Regions from separate parts of the Homo sapiens genome. Here region 1 is linked to region 2. Evidence: fine-mapped expression QTL. A gene starts in region 2. The other region holds a variant in brackets. All regions are shown on one strand. Distances are from middle to middle.

Region 1 (2,898 bases), 33 kb before region 2:
TGAGATGACAATGGAATACTTACTTTATTTCATTTTATTTTTAAAAAATGGAAACCGGCTGGGTGCAGTGGCTCACACCTGTAATCCCAGCACTTTGGGAGTCCAAGCATGTGGATCACATGAGGTCAGGAGTTTGAGACCAGCCTGGCCAACATGGTGAAACCCCGTCTTTACTAAAAATACAAAAATTAGCCGGGCATGGTGGTGGGCACCTGTAAACCCAGCTACTCGGGAGGCTGAGGCAGGAGAATTGCTTGAACCCTGGAGGCGGAGGCTGCAGTGAGCCGAGATCACACCATTGCACTCCAGCTTGGGCGACAGAGTGAGGCTCCAAAAAAAAAAAAAAAAAAAGGAGGAGGAGGAGAAGGGGAAGGAAAGGAAGGAAGGAAGGAAGGAGGGAAGGAAGGAAGGAAGCAAGGAAGGAAGGGAGGGAGGAAGGAAGGAAGGAAGGAAATTGGGCATTTCAGGGAATTGCTGGGGCAGCCAGAGAACCAAATTGGAGGGAGGTCTCACACTATTGCACTAGGAACAATGCCCCACATCAAACCTGTGCCCCTGCCTGTCCTGTGGATGCAAGACACCGCTAATAGCGCCACTCCACTGCCACCCTAGGAACTTGATCCTCTGTCCTTCTGCCAGGGTCTTAACTACTTTCCATCTCCTCATGCCCACCCCAGTCTCTCCTGGAGCAAAGTCTGGCAGGTGCACAGATGGGCAGAGTCCAGCTGACATGCCCATGCTATGCCCAGAAACAACGCTGCAAAAGTGAATATCTGGAAATTGCAAATACTACTCTGGGAGGTTGGTCTATCTGCTCCCTAAATTCATAAGACATGGGATTCCCACACTCCAAGAAGGGGGGTTAGAACCTGAGTGCTGAAAAGAATGACAAACATCAACCACAGAGAGTGTTCCAGCCGGGTGTGGTGTATAGGATTACGTCTGTAATCCCAGCACTTTGGGAGGCCAAGGCAGGAAGATCACTTGAGCCCAGGAGTTTGAGACCAGCCTGGGCAACATAGCGAGACCTGGTGTCTGCAAACAATTTTTTTTTTTTTTTTTGAGACAGAGCCTCACTCTATTGCCCAAGCTGGAGTGCAGTGTCGAGATCTCAGATCATTGCAACCTCTGCCTCCCGGGTTCAAGCAATTCTCCTGCTTCAGCCTCCCAAATAGCTGGGATTACAGGTGTGCGCCATCACGCCCGGCTAATTTTTGTATTTTTAGTAGAGACAGGGTTTCACCATGTTGGCCAGGCTGGTCTTGAACTCCTAACCTCAAGTGATCCACCCACCTCGGCCTCCCAAAGTGCTGGGATTATAGGTGTGAACCACCACACCCAGCCCTACAAACAAATTTTTAAAAATAGCTAGGTATGGTGGTGCATGCCTACAGTCTCAGCTACTTGGAAGGCTGAGGCAGGAGGATCACTTGAGCCCATGAGTTTGAGGGTGCAGTGATCATGATCACACCACTGCACTCCAGCCTGGGCAAGAGAGTGAGACCCTGACTCTAAAAAAATTGAAAAAAAAAGGTGGGGAGGAACATGGATCATAGACTCACAAAGATGAGAGGCTTCAGAATCCATCT[G/A]GCCACCTCTCAACCACCGCAGGAACCACCTCTACAACCACATGAGAAAAGGCATGGGGAGGTGTCAGTGTGGTTTGTAAGATGACAGTACAAACACCATTCCTAATAGTGAAGAAGAATCTCACCTCTTCAGCTAGGTGCAGTGGCTCAGGCCTGTAATCCCAGCACTTTGGGAGGCCGAGGCGGGTGGATCACTTGAGGTCAGGAGTTTAAAACCAGCCTGGCCAACATGGTGAAACCCCGTCTCTACTAAAAATACAAAAGTTAGCCAGGTGTGGTGGCATGCGCCTGTAATCCCAGCTACGCAAGAGGCTGAGGCAGGAGAATTGCTTGTACCCAGGAGGCGGAGGTTGCAGTGAGCTGAGATCGCGCCATTGCACTCCAGCCTGGGTGACAGAGCGAGACGCCATCTCAAAAAAAAAAAAGAGAAGAAGAAGAATCTCACCTCTTCCATGTTTCCATTTATACAAGTGGCACCACTAACCCTCCAGGATTTTTCTCCCTTCCTCTCTACTTAGATGATGATCAGCTTCAGATCACCAGCTCCTTTGAGGCATCTCTCCTGATTTGTCCCTCGCATTTCATCCTGGAGTCAGGATTCCCAAAACTCTCAGACGATCTTTCAGCTTTCCAATTGTCCTTTCAAATTCTTCCACATATGACTATAAGATTAATCTTTTTTTTTCTGAGACAGGGTATCGCTCTGTCACCCAGGCTGGAGTGCAGTGGAAAAATCGACTCACTGCAGCCTCTACCTCCTGCACTCAAGCGATCCTCCCACCTCAGCCTCCTAAGTAGCTGGGACCACAGGCACGTGCCACCATGCCTGGCTAATTTTTTTTATTTTTTCTAGAAACAGGGTCTTCGTTGCCCAGGCTGGTCTCAAACTCCTAAGCTCAAGCAATTCTGCCACCTCAGCCTCCCAAAGTGCTGGGCTTACGAGCCTGAGCCACCATGTGCCTGGCCAAGATTAACTTTATTAACACTGTTTTCACCAAGTTATTCACTGGTTCACACAACCATAATGACCCTAAACTGCCAACTGCATCAAATCTCAATTCATCTCCATGCACAAGCTGTATCGGATCAACTAACTCATAGATCCTCCACATTCATCATTCACTAACAATGAAGAAATCCAAGTTGGGTGTCGTGGCTCACGCCTGTAATCCCAGCACTTTGGGAGGCCAAAGCAGGTGGATAACTTGAGGTTAGGAGTTCGAGACCAGCCTGGCCAATATGGTGAAACCCTGTCTCTACTAAAAATACAAAAAAATTAGCTGGGTGTGATGACGCATGCCTATAGCCC
Region 2 (2,898 bases):
GAGGTCAGGAGTTGGAGACCAGCCTGACCAACATGGAGAAACCCTCTCTCTACTAAAAAAAAAAAAAAAAAAAAAAAATACAAAAGTAGCCGGGCGTGCTGGCGCATTCCTGTAATCCCAGCTACTCAGGAGGCTGAGGCAGGAGAATCGCTTCAACCCGGGAGGCCGAGATTGTGGTGAGCCGAGATCACGCTATTGCACTCCAGCCTGGGCAACAAGAGTGAAACGCTGTCAAAAAAAAAAAAAAAAAAAAAGAGGAATAACATTTCTCTCTTCATGTCTATCCCCACATCCTTGGGGACATTCTTTAAATCTCATAAATATGAATGATCTCTTTGGGGAGGGGGTGATCAGAGTCATAGCTGGGCATGATCGGAGTCAGAGCTGGGAATGCCGGCAGCCCACCCACCCGCACCCCACTCCCACCACACCCCACACACCTGAAATATCGATGCCCTTGAGGCCGATGGCTTCTTGACACTGGGGGAGGGAGGAGAGGGAGGGAAGGGAGAGCCCAGTCGCCGGAGAGGCGGAGACAAAGAAGGCAGCTGCACAAAGCGCCCAAAGATGAGAGCGAAAAGGACGGGAATGGAGGCAGAGAGCAGACAAAAGCGGACAGGAGATGCGGCCGCAGGGGACAGGCAGGGAAGCCGGAGGAGGCTTCGACACCGAATCACAGACATGACACCTCGTGACTCTGGGCCCAGCAGATGAAAAAAAAAAAATCCTAGCACGCACCCCCTCCCCTGGGACACTGTAAATAGAAAGCAGCGTGACACACCCCCTTCGCCCCGGGGTATGGGGGGCGGGGATCCGTGGAGGGGAAGGGGTCAAGGGGAAAAGAAAGTCAGAAAAAAGGCCGTAAGAGAACAACCTTGGAAACAGAGACGGGGAGAGGCGATGAAGTGGGGGCGGGAGAGAAGGCCTAGGGGGTGGGCAGAGGCAGGGGCCGAGGAAGATGGCCCAGCCAAAGGGGGTGGGGGGAGGGCCCCAGAGGGCCACAGTAGTGGAGAAGGGGGGGCTGTCCTGCAGGGTCTTCCCGAGTGAGGGTCTTCCCTCTGCCTCTACCCCGGATTGGGGGCTTGGGCTTGGGGGAGAGGGAGATTGCAAAGGGAGCGATCTGCTTGGCGGGGGTTCCCCTGGGCGCCGGACCCTGGGGACAGGTGGGAGCGACATGGCAACAGAGGGGGGCGGGGGAGCGCTTCTGGACACCTGAAGCGCAGCCTCTGACTCAGTTTTCTGGGTCTTCGGACTGGGAGGGGCTGGGCAGAAGGGGGCGCAGCCGCTTGGTCCCCCTGAGGGGCGGTGGCCTTCTGCTGCCCCATTCTGCGGTGGAGGAGCACGCTAGCCCCCTCCCCAGTCCCCAGGCCCGGCCGCCCCCCTACCTCGCCGGAGCCGGAGCTGGAGCCAGGGCCGAGATGCCGCAAAGCCAAGCGGGGCGGGCGGCGGGCGCAGACACCCCCGGTGCCAAGAGAGAGGTCCCTTTGGAGCCCCCAAGAGTCAAAGGAGGATGACGCGCGGGGACTCGGCCGCGCTGTCGGAGCCCGACTCTAACGTCGGTCAGCGCTGGGGCAGCGCCGCAGCTCCGTTGGCGACGCGGGCCGGGGCGCCCATCGGTTCAGGGGTTCGGGTGGCACGCGTGGCTCCCCCGGCGACGCTCCGGCGGCAGCTTCGAGGGGCGGAGACCCCGGCGACGCGGAAGAAACCCGGGACGGATCCGGAGCGGACTCGTGCCCTGCTGGCGGGGCCGGGGGTCGGGGTGCGCCCTGGGCAGCTGGGTGGCCTCAAGCCCTACTGGCGAGACTCCGCCCTGTGTCCCGGCTGGGGAGTGGGACTGAGGATGGTGGTGTCTCGGGTTTTGGTGGTGGTGATGCTGGTGTTGCTGGCTTAGTTATCTCCCCACCCCACGCCCAGCACCTCCGTTCTCTGTCCGGGGGTCCCCCACTGCCCTGAAGTACCCCTCCTCCAGGAGCCACCCCTCAATGGAATCTCCTCTCTCCATTATAAGAGCGGCTGGGAAGGGGACTCCGAGCCTTCGTCCCCGGAAACTGATAGAGGGAATCAGAAACCCTAGAACACCGGGAAGGCGAAGAGACATCAAGAGACAGAAGTTGAAAGGCTGAAAAGGGCAGAGGGAGGCCAAGATCTCTCCATCTTCTCACCACTGCGTGGGTGCCTGAGCACCCTGGTTCCCCGGGTGCACAAGGCCCCTAAATCCACAATGTACCCCACGGGACAGCAGGCAGAAAGACCTCCAGGTACACAGCGCACACCCAGGCACATTCACACAGACCTCTGCACTCAGGAGGCGCTGCACCCCACGCTGATCCTGGTGGCTGGGGAGGAAGAGGGAAGTGTGGAGCTGGGACCCGGGTGGGTGCAGCGCTGCCCCTGCTCTAATAAGGCGGTGGCCCAGGCTCTTAACTCCTACAAGGTTCTCCATCCCACCTATAAAGTGAGCTCAAGACTGGGTGCGGTGGCTCAAGCCTGTGATCCCAGCACTTTGGGAGGCCGAGGCGGGGGAATCACTTGAGGTCAGGAGTTCGAGACCAGCCTGGCCAACATGGTGAAACCCCGTCTCTACTAAAAATACAACAATTAGCCTGGCCTGGCCGGGCACGGTGGCTCATGCCTGTAATCCCAGCACTCTGGGAGGCCGAGGTGGGAGGATCACCTGAGGTCAGGAGTTCAAGACCAGCATGGCCAACATGGCGAAACCCCGTTTCTACTAAAAATACAAAAATCAGCCGGGCACAGTGGCCTGCACCTGTAATCTCAGCTACTTGGGAGGCTGAGGCAGGAGAATCGCTTGAACCCGGGAGGCAGAGATTGCAATGCGCCGAGATCGTGCCACTGCACTCCAGCCTGCGCGGCAGAGCGAGAATCCAACTCAAAATA

The links. PIP is the estimated chance that this variant, and not a neighbour inherited with it, causes the effect. A credible set is the group of variants that fine-mapping cannot tell apart.
Region 1: its variant is the best candidate, but not a certain one, in a credible set for the expression of NAT16 in thyroid (GTEx, PIP 0.77).

What each region holds. Positions count from the first base shown.
Region 1 is chr7:101,145,542-101,148,439 of GRCh38, forward strand. No RefSeq gene overlaps it. Among named protein-coding and RNA genes, the nearest start is that of AP1S1, 7.5 kb to the right of the region's middle. The variant G/A (reference allele first, on the strand shown) is at 1,590.
Region 2 is chr7:101,178,657-101,181,554 of GRCh38, forward strand. NAT16 (N-acetyltransferase 16 (putative)) reads right to left here and starts at 1,637. Exons shown (of 4, transcript NM_198571.3): 1 at 1,386-1,637. RefSeq lists an enhancer at 1,418-2,140 and a silencer at 1,512-1,806.